Homo sapiens: one gene and its partners. The protein of the gene in region 1 interacts with the protein of each later gene in a pairwise test. Each region holds a gene or a part of one and is shown on either strand. Other genes may lie near its edges. The genes, in order: SLC71A2, EXOSC10 and TMEM119.

Region 1 (3,652 bases):
TTGGGAGGCTGAGGCAGGAGAATCACTTGAACCCAGGAGGCGGAGATTGTGGTGAGCCGTTATCACGCCATTGCACTCCAGCCTGGGCAACAAGAGTGAAACTCCATCTCAAAAAAAAAAAAAGGGGGAAGAAAATTCAAGCCAATATATAGTGACAGAGTAGATAAATTATCGCCTGGAAATGGAGGTGTAGAGGGAGGTAAAAAGAAACATTTGAGGGTGATGAATATGTTTACTATCTTGATTATGATAATGGTTTCACAGGTGTATAGATATGTCACAACACAAAACTGTGCACTCCAAACACACAGTTTATTTTATGTCAATTAAACTGAATAAGGTTGTTTAAAAAAGACAAGCAAATACAAAGCTAACTATAAAAAAGTCAGACTAATGCTGGGCACAGTGGCTCACACCTGCAATCCCAATGCTTTGGGAGGCCAAGGCAGGAGGATTCTTTGAAGCCAGGAGTTCGAGACCAGCCTGGACAACAAAGCAAGAGCACATCTCTACAAATAAAAATTTAAAAATTAGCCAGGCATGATGGGACGTACGTGTAGTCCCAGCTACCAGGAGGCTGAGGCAGGAAGATCACTTGAGCCCTGGAGTTCCCGGGTGCACTGAGCCATAATCACACCACTGCACTCCAGCCTGGATGAAACAGTAAGACTCTTGTCTCAAAAATAAATAAATAAATACACATTAAGAATAGATTTCTCTCCAATTCTCACAGAACAATGCTCTTGCTATGCCATAACCTCTTTCTCCATAGCATATCTAAGATTTCATAACCACTTGTGAAAGTTCTATGACATGCTGAACTGGAGGAAGGGAAGAGGAAAAGGGGAAGAGAGAACACATGTAAGAAACTGAGAAATTTCTTTTTTTTTTTTGAGAAAGAGTCTCGCTCTGTCGCCCAGGCTGGAGTGCAGTGGCACGATCTCTGCTCACTGCAAGCGTGGTCCACCTCCCAGATTCACGCCATTCTCCTGCCTCAGCCTCCCAAGTAGCTGGGACTACAGGCGCCCACCACCACGCCTGGCTAATTTTTTGTATTTTTAGTAGAGACAGGGTTTCACCGCGTCAGCCAGGATGGTCTCAATCTCCTGACCTCGTGATCCGCCTGCCTCAGCCTCCAAAAGTGCTGGGATTATAGGCGTAAGCCACCGCGTCCAGCTGAAACTGAGAAATTTCAAAAATGCTTCCATAGGGTAATAAAGCATGTTTACGTGTATACAGCCAAAAGGATACCTAACAGTAAGAAAAAATTAATGTATTCCTGTTACGTAGAGGAGGTTGTATGCACTTTTACCATTACCATTGAATACTTTCCTGGATATTCTAGTTCATTTAACATCAAAATAAGATATAAAATTATCAACACGTGCAATATTTGTGAATATTTATCCAGAAGATCCTACAAAATTAAATATTTTTTGAAAGACAAAGCACAAGTTATCAATGCAGAGTACCAGCCAGGCATGGTGGCTCATGCCTATAATCCCAGCACTCTGAGAGGCTGAGGCTGGAGGATTACTTGAGGCCAGGAGTTCAAGACAAGCCTGGACAACACAGTGAGACCCAATCTCTACAAAAAAATTTAAAAACTAGCCAGGCATAGTGCCACGTGCCTATAGTCCTTGCTACTAGGGAGGCTGAGGCAGGAGGATCATTTGAACCCAGGAGTTTAAGGTTACAGCAAGCTATGATTGTGCGCCACCGCACTCCAGCCTGGATGACAGAGTGAGGCCTCACCTCTTAAAAAAAAAAAAAAAAAGGGCCAGGCGCAGTGGCTCACGCCTGTAATTCCAGCACTTTGGGAGGCCAAGGCAGGTGGATCGCCTGAGGTCAGGAGTTCAAGACCAGCCTGGCCAACATGGTGCAACCCCATCTCTACTAAAAATACAAAATTATCCGGGCATGGTGGCACAAGCCTGTAATCCCAGCTACATGGGAGGCTGAGGCAGGAGAATCGCTTGAACCCGGCAGGCAGAGGCTGTAGTGAGCCAAGATCACACCATTGCACTCCAGCCTGGGCAACAACAGTGAAACTCCGTCTCAAAAAAAAAAAAAAGGAAATGCACACCAAGAATCCCTACAGAAGGTGAAAAGAGCCTACGAGGTCATTATTCACAGCTTTATGCCAACTAATTTGACATTTTAGATAAAATGGGCAAATTCCCAACAAAACACAACTTACTGAAACTGACAGAACTAAAAATCAAACAGAAAACCTACGCTGTTCTAGAATTAATCTCCAAAAGGCCAAGAACTATAAAGTTCTAGAACTGTATTACCAATCTTACACAAATTCTTCCACAGAATAGAAAACCAAACTATCCAATTTGTTTTTAAGGCAGATAGCATTTGGATATCTGTCTCCTCCAAATCTCATGTTGAAATGTGACCCCCAGTGTTGGAGGTGGGGTCTAGTGGCAGCTGTTTGGGTCATGGGGGCTGATCTCTTCTCAATTGTTTGGTGTCCTTCTCACAGTAATGAGTGAGTCCTCGCTCCATTAGTTACCACAAGATCTGATTGGTTTTGTTTATTGTTTGTTTTTGAGACAGAGTCTCACTCTGTCACCCAGGGTGGAGTGCAGTGGCGCCTCCCAGTTTCAAACAATTCTCCTGTCTCAGCCTCCCAGGTAGCTAGGACTACAGGTATGCACCATCACACCCGGCTAATTTTTGTATTTTTAGTAGAGATGGGGTTTCACTATGTTGGCCACGCTGGTCTCCAACTGCTGACCTTAAGTGATCCACCGCACGCGGCCAAGATCTCATTGCTAAAAGGAGCCTGGCACCTCCTCCCCTCTCTCTCTTGCTCCCTCCCCAACACGTGATAAGCTGCTTCCCCTTCGCCTTCTGTCCTGATTGCAAGCTTTCTGAGGCCCTCACCAGAAACAGATGCTGGTGCTAAGCTTCCTGTACAGCCTAAAGAACCACTTTTCTTGATAAATTCCCCAGTCTCAGGTATTCTCAGGTATTCCTTTACAGCAACGCAAACAGCTAACATACACCTCCTTTTTTTTTTTTTGGAAATGGAGTCTCGCTCTGTCGCCAGGCTGGAGTGCAGTCTGTCGCCAGGCTGGAGTGCAGTGGCACGATCTCAGCTCACTGCAACCTCCGCCTCCCAGGTTCAAGCGATTCTCCTGCCTCAGCCTCCTGAGTAGCTGGGACTACAGGCGCCTGCCACCATGCCCAGCTAACTTTTATATTTTTATAGAGACAGGATTTCACCATGTTGGCCAGGATGGTCTTGATCTCTTGACCTTGTGATCCGCCCACGTCAGCCTCCCAAAGTGCTGGGATTACAGGTGTGAGCCACCGTGCCCGGCGACACACCTCCCTTTTCTAGAAGGAAATGATCTCTTGGAGTAAATACTTGATTCTCTTTTATTTTTCAGATTATGACATCTCTCTGCCAGTATCTTTTTCTGGTCAATATATCTCTTTGCCAAATAAGGTAGAAAAAAGTTGTCAGGCCAAGCATCATGGCTCTAACCTATAATCCCAGCACTGGGAGGCTGAGACAGGAGGATCATTTGAGCCCAGGAGTTTGAGACCAGCTTGGGAAACAGGAAGACTTCATCTCTACAAAAAATAAATTAAAAAAAAAAAAAAAAAAAAGCCAGGCATGGTGGCACATATC
Region 2 (3,652 bases), on another chromosome or scaffold:
TGAGCATGAGTGGCCTGCTACCAGTGTACTGCATGACTTTGGTTCTGTTTTCAGGTCTTTCATGGTGCTGATTCAGACATAGAATGGCTACAGAAAGACTTTGGGTTGTATGTAGTAAACATGTTTGATACTCATCAGGCAGCACGCCTTCTTAACCTGGGCAGGCACTCACTCGATCATCTCCTGAAACTCTACTGCAACGTGGACTCAAACAAGCAATATCAGCTGGCTGATTGGAGAATACGGTCAGTTTGCTCTTACTGAGGAAATGTGGGTGGCAGAAGAAAGTGATTATTCATTAACCTGTCGTCCAGAGAGACCTGGGTTTGAGCCCTACCACGCTCATTGAGATGAATGGCATCAGGCTTTTCGCCAGGCATCTTCAGCAGCGTAAAAGTGGTAGGAAATTTTTTAATGCTAAGGTGGACTTTATGATGGGCTGATGCAGTTACACTGTGTTCCATGGAAATAGTGGTTGAAAAAGAGGTGCCGCACCAGTATTTGCCCATGCTGGTCTTTTGTTTGAAACTGGGATCTTTCTACCAGATGATTTTGTGTGTGTGTAAGATCTTCTGTAGGGATGATTGTGTGTGTGTGTGTGTGTGCAAGATGACCTTCCATAGGTGGGAAAGAATTCTAAGGGACACTGTTGTTTAGCTTTACACTGAGCGTTTTTTTGTGGCATAAGGTAGCAGTTTTGCCCCACTTCCTGCAGGCCTTGCTCAGCTTGGTCGTTTTCCGCTTGGTTGCTACCTCTCCGAGGTTGCACCTGTCATAGGAAGGTGCTACTGAGCTTTTTCAGGAATTCCACATGCCAGAATGCCAGAATTTCTTTTTTTCTTTTTTTTTTTTTGAGATGCAGTTTCACTGTTGCCCAGGCTGGAGTGCAATGGCGCGATCTCGGCTCACCACAACCTCTGCCTCCCGGGTTCAAGCAATTCTCCTGCCTCAGCCTCCTGAGTAGCTAGGATTACAGGCGTGCACCACCACGCCCAGCTAATTTTGTATTTCCAGTAGAGACGAGGTTTCTCCATGTTGGTCAGACTGGTCTCAAACTCCTGACCTCAGGTGATCCTCCCGCCTCCGCCTCCCAAAGTGCTGGGATTACAGGCGTGAGCCACCGCGCCTGGCCCAGAATGCCAGAATTTCTAAATATAAAAGTAAAATTACATTTGGACTGATAAAATCCAAATAAAAGATAAAAATTGATAAAATCTAAAAACCACTCCCTGTTACGGAGCCCTTACCCTGTGCCAAGCTCTGGGCTAAGTGCTTCAAGGATGTGGTCCTGTGTAGTCCTCACAACAGCCTATGAAGTACCTGGTTCCCATTTCACAAGTTAGGTGGGTCAGCCCAAAGAGGTTAAGGAACTTGTCCAAGGACAGACATCTGGAGCTGAGATTTGAACTCAGGACACCAGTGGCCCCTTTTCTACTGCCTCTTGTGTGTGTCCAGAGTAGCTGACAGTGCCCTTATTTTAACCACCGCATTACCCTGCCTCCAATTCTACCCAGCTGTTAAAATAATGGTTTATCATGTTAAAATGCAGGAAATGTTGGCATAACTGCAGTATTGACTATGAAAGGATCTTTCATATTGGAAGGGTCTAAGGAAGTCCCAGCACCCAAGGAATAGACAAATTGAATTGCTGTCCTTGGGGGCAATCAGTAAAACATTGTCCTCTGCAATTCCAGCCCTCTGCCCGAGGAGATGCTCAGCTACGCCCGGGATGACACCCATTACCTGCTATATATCTATGACAAAATGAGGCTGGAGATGTGGGAGCGCGGCAACGGGCAGCCGGTGCAGCTGCAGGTGGTGTGGCAACGGAGCAGGGACATCTGCCTCAAGGTACACCTCAGCCGCAGTCACACAGACCGCGACACTTGGGCTCTGTGTCTGGCCAGGTTCTAGTTCTTAGGTTTGCTCCTTACATTCATGAAAAGAGCCAAACATTTTCCAGAGCCCAGGGCACAATTTTGATTCCCGTTGATTTTGAATGTTCTCTAATACTTTGTAGAAATTCATCAAACCTATCTTCACGGATGAGTCCTACCTTGAACTCTATAGGAAGCAGAAGAAGCACCTTAACACACAGCAGTTGACAGCCTTTCAGCTGCTGTTTGCCTGGAGGGATAAAACAGCTCGCAGGGAAGATGAAAGTTACGGGTAAGGGATTAGAGGTTCTTTTAATACTTGTTTCCAGACTGAGGAGATCTAATAACAAGTAAATAATGGGCTTTTTTCTTTTGCTATGAAAGCTGGTTATTTCCCCTATGTGACAGCATCTAATGGAACTTACTGGCTGAATGTAATGTGTCCCCACCGTGTGTGTGTGTGTGTGTGTGTGTGTGTGTGTGTGTGTGTGTTTTTTTTTTTCCAGATATGTACTGCCAAACCACATGATGCTGAAAATAGCTGAAGAACTGCCTAAGTGAGTTTCAAATCTGATTAATATGTTCTGACTTTCTCAGTAGATCTGATGTTCTTCAAAATCAAGCTTTTCTGGTTGCTATTACCCAAGGCTGCTTACTCAGAGATTAATGCTCCAAGCTTGGAAGGTAGCAAGTTGAAGGAATATAGAATTTCTGCCCTCAGGCTGCCATTTAAGCACTAAAACTTCTGAACTGGAATCATTTCAATGATTATGCCTTAGTTTGAGTTTATTTTAAGTCTCTGAGCCTTATAGCATCTACTTGCAAGGGAAGAAAATGTCCCAGATTCTGTCATCTGTACTTTCTTCCAAATTAAAGCAGCTCATGATCTTAAACGTTTTGTGATCTTGATTGAAGTATAAGCAAGAATGAAAATCCACAGCCCGTTGGTTGCCCCCTGCGGAATTGAGAATCCACAGTGCTATGGCACTTACTTTCAGCTCTCCCTGATTGTGGGAGTCAGGCTCCAAGAGGGATCCACTTAAAGCTTGGTGTCGCAAAGAACACATGGAGAAGTTGGCCTAGGCTGGCCTGACATCAGTGTTTCCTTAGTCACCTACCTGTAGCTTCAGCTTAGGTGGCAGCCTGGCTTTACCCAGTCATTATTCTTATCTGGAAGCCTTTAAGGGCTGCGTTTCTGAGTGACAAGTTGAGTGTGTTCTTACTTGTCTTCAGGGAACCTCAGGGCATCATAGCTTGCTGCAACCCAGTACCGCCCCTTGTGCGGCAGCAGATCAACGAAATGCACCTTTTAATCCAGCAGGCCCGAGAGATGCCCCTGCTCAAGGTAAGAAGCTTTTCTGCGGCTGGGCACAGTGGCTCACGCCTATAATCTCAGCACTTTGGGAGGCTGAGGTGGCTGGATCATTTCAGGTCAGGAGTTCGAGACCAGCCTGGCCAACATGGTGAAACCCCGTCTCTACTAAAAATACAAAAAATTAGCCAGGCGTGTGGTGCACGCCTGTAATCCCAGCTACTCCGGAGGCTGAGGCAGGAGAATTGCTTGAATCCGGGAGGCGGAGGTTGCAGTGAGCCGAGATCGCGCCACTGCACTCTAGCCTGGGAGGCAGAGCGAGACTCCGTCTCAAAAAAAAAAAAAAAGATTTTCTACTGAAGGGTCCCAACTTAGCAAGCCTGTTTTTTTTTTGTTTGTTTGTTTTTTGTTTTTTTTAGACGGAGTCTCGCTCTGTCTCCAGGCTGGAGTGCAGTGGCATGAT
Region 3 (3,019 bases), on another chromosome or scaffold:
GAGGCTATTGTGTGTTATGAAACCCAAAACTCTGGGGCCCCCTCCGGCTGGAGGTGGGGTCGGTGGAGGGGAGGGGCTGCAGGGGATGGCCCACTGCCCCCCAGCCCCAGGGACCCAGCACATGCTCCCAGCCCCAGCCACATCTGGATTCCAGCTGGCAGCTCCTGAGGCCCAGGGTGCGGGGGAGAAGTCGCTGCAGGAACTTGCCATCAAAGACCAAGAGGAGTTTTGTGGGTGGGGAGACAGAAGGCAGAGGCCGACTGCAGGGCCAGGGCTGCCTCCTACTCCCGATCCCGGCCAAGGGTGCAGTGAGGGGGGCATTGTCCATGAGACCCGTCCCAGTCCTCAACCACCTGCAGGGGAAACAGAGAGGTGAGTGACTCTCCCATGGCCACAGTGGCAGAGCTGGGCATGGAACCTGGGTCTGCGTGGCCACAAGTCCAGAGCTGGTGCTCCACCCCTGGGGACATGAGTTCCAGCCCATTCCTCGGGAGCACCGGTCTTTCCTTTGTTTCCCACATCAATCTGTCCCTTCACCCTCCAGGACTGGGCTGATGTGTCTCCCCAGAAAGTTGTCCCCATCCCCATGCAAGAGCCCCTCCCCAGCAGGCTCATTTCCCCCACCCCCCAGAAAACTGGTGAGACTTCAGGCCGGAATAAAGGTTTATTGTGCTGGTGCATTATATCTCAGCACCTGGAGAGCTGTGCAGAGGTTGGGGGAGCCCCAGATGGAGGGATGGGGGAGAGGACCTCCTGCCAGAGCCTCCCTAAAGCAGGACGGAGCCCAGGCTCCCTGTCGAGGACTGACGAATATTGTGGACACAGGCTGCCAGACAATGTGTGAGCAACAGGGGGTGGCCAGGGCCCCCCTGCTCCAGGCTGGGCGTCAGAAACCCTTCCCCAGCCCCTCGGACTTCCCCAGGGTGGAGGTCCCCTCAAACACAGCCCCTCAGCTTCTAGGCTGCTTTGGAGGCCAGACAGGAAGAGTTCCATTCATTCAACCTGATCCCAGCAGCAGTAGCGGGATGAGAAACTCACCCCCAGGCCGGGGGTGCTTGGAGAGCGCTTGAGAGGATTTAAATGCCCTATACCCCACATCCCTAATCCTGGACCAACTAGAAACAGGGGGCCACCTTCAGGAAAATTAAGAGCAGTATTTTCCAGAGTGGGTGCTGCAGGATTTTACCCTGTAGCTGTTTTAAAAAGTAGTTTGGGCCGGGCACGGTGGCTCACGCCTGTAATCCCAGCACTTTGGGAGGCAGAGGCAGGTGGATCACCTGAAGGTCAGGAGTTCCAGACCAGCCTGGCCAACATGGTGAAGCCCCATCTCTACTAAAAATACAAAATTTAGCTGGGCGCAGTGGTGGGCACCTGTAATCCCAGCTACTGAGGCGGGAGAATCGCTTGAACCTGGGAGGCGGATTGCACTGAGCCAAGATTGCACCAAGATTGCACCACTGCACTCCAGCCTGGGTGACAGACCGAGACTCCGTCTCAAAAAAAAAAATCTTGTTTCCGTAGAGTGCCTCGGGGAACCTAGTTTGGGAAATGCTCATTTAGGGACCTGTCGTAATGTGTGCAGGGGTCCTCTCACAGAAGTGTCCTAATTAACCACACACACTTCTGCTGCTGGAGCTCTGAGCACAGGCAGAATGACACTAAAATATTCAGCATTGAAAGGACACAAGAAGGGAACCATTTGCAGTTTCAAAATACTGCTTCACGCCAGGCTGCATGTTGCCTTACGAACGCTGGGCACCTTGGCGTCTCTCATCCAAACTCTTCCAAAACTCCCACTTATTCTTTGCTCCCTTGATGGAAAAGCAGTGATGTTTGCCCCACAAATGACCTGTGACATATGATTCCCAATTAATGTGGCTGATTTAGTGGACTGTTTTTTGTTTTTATAGAGATGGGTCTCACAATGTTGCCAGGGCTGGTTTGGAACTCCTGGTCTCAAGTGATGTCCGCACTTGGCCTCCCAAAATGCTGAGATTACAGGTGTGAGCCTCCACACCCAGCCTTGAGGGATGTTTTATCCTGGCTGTCACAGGGACACGTGCCCTCCCTCACTTTGTCAGGGGAGCTGTGCTGTAGGATGTAGCCCTTTGGGGCTGCTGAGGTGAAGGATGATGGCACTTGGTAAGATTCCTCCGGGGCACCGGGGACCAGCATTTCTGCCTGCTGTAGAATCAGCACATGCTGGGATTGGCACCACAGGGAGGCCAAGGAGGGAGTGTCAGGAAGCAGTCAGGGCTGAAGGCCTTTTCATACACGGGGAGGTGACCACTTGGGGGCCCGACAGTCAGGGCTGGCAGCCCGGGAGGACTGTTAGACACTGGGGTGGACACTGCTGCAAGCACAGGGGCTTTCGGGGGGACCCACTGGTCCCTGGGCTTCCTGGGCTAACAAGAGAGACCCTTCCAGCTCCCCTTGGCCCTCACCGGCCACCACAGCCCCCTCAAGGACCCCTGAGCACGGCTCCTCCTGCGCCTCTGGTGTCTCCACTGGGACCCCATGTCCCTGGACTTCCTGGTCCCCCTCCTGGCTGCCCTTCTCCTCTTCCTCTGCGCCCCTGCCCTCCACCATCCTGGCTCCGTCCCCACCGCCCAGTGCAGCCCTGGTGGGGGACTTGAGGTTCTGGGTGGCGGCCAAGATGTCGGCCTGGAGCTGCCGGGAGGAATCCAGGGCTTCCTCGGGCCTGCTGTCGGGGGCTCTGTCGGGGACCTCACTGAAGGCCCGGGGGCCCCCGGCCCGGTCACTCTGGTCCACGTACTTCTTCTTGGGGAAGGACGATGGGTAATAGGCCGAGGCCTTCTGCTTCTGCCGGGTGATGACCGCGGCACAGACGATGAACATCAGCAGAAAGGCCAGGGAGCCCACCACAGCAATCAGCATCACGTACTGGCGGAAGAAGTCCACTATCCCATCCAGGAAGTTGGTGGGGGGTGATGGGCCCCCCAGGGTTATGGGCTGGGGCCCCATCGATGTGGGGCTGAGGGCCGGGGTCCAGGGTGGC

What was found.
Region 2: the proteins of SLC71A2 (region 1) and EXOSC10 interact in a two-hybrid assay, tested with the Homo sapiens proteins (one large-scale study listed by IntAct).
Region 3: the proteins of SLC71A2 (region 1) and TMEM119 interact in a two-hybrid assay, tested with the Homo sapiens proteins (one large-scale study listed by BioGRID).

The regions. Positions count from the first base shown.
Region 1 is NC_000009.12:94,377,512-94,381,163, reverse strand, and holds part of SLC71A2 (hippocampus abundant transcript-like protein 1), read right to left. Parts: intron 1-3,652.
Region 2 is NC_000001.11:11,079,281-11,082,932, reverse strand, and holds part of EXOSC10 (exosome complex component 10), read left to right. Parts: intron 1-54; coding exon 55-245; intron 246-274; exon of another isoform or gene 275-399; intron 400-1,694; coding exon 1,695-1,851; intron 1,852-2,020; coding exon 2,021-2,169; intron 2,170-2,383; coding exon 2,384-2,434; intron 2,435-3,110; coding exon 3,111-3,222; intron 3,223-3,652. UniProt on the Homo sapiens protein: Catalytic component of the RNA exosome complex which has 3'->5' exoribonuclease activity and participates in a multitude of cellular RNA processing and degradation events.
Region 3 is NC_000012.12:108,589,201-108,592,219, forward strand, and holds the end of TMEM119 (transmembrane protein 119 precursor), read right to left. Parts: coding exon 2,332-3,019; 3' UTR 651-2,331; downstream 1-650. UniProt on the Homo sapiens protein: Plays an important role in bone formation and normal bone mineralization. Promotes the differentiation of myoblasts into osteoblasts.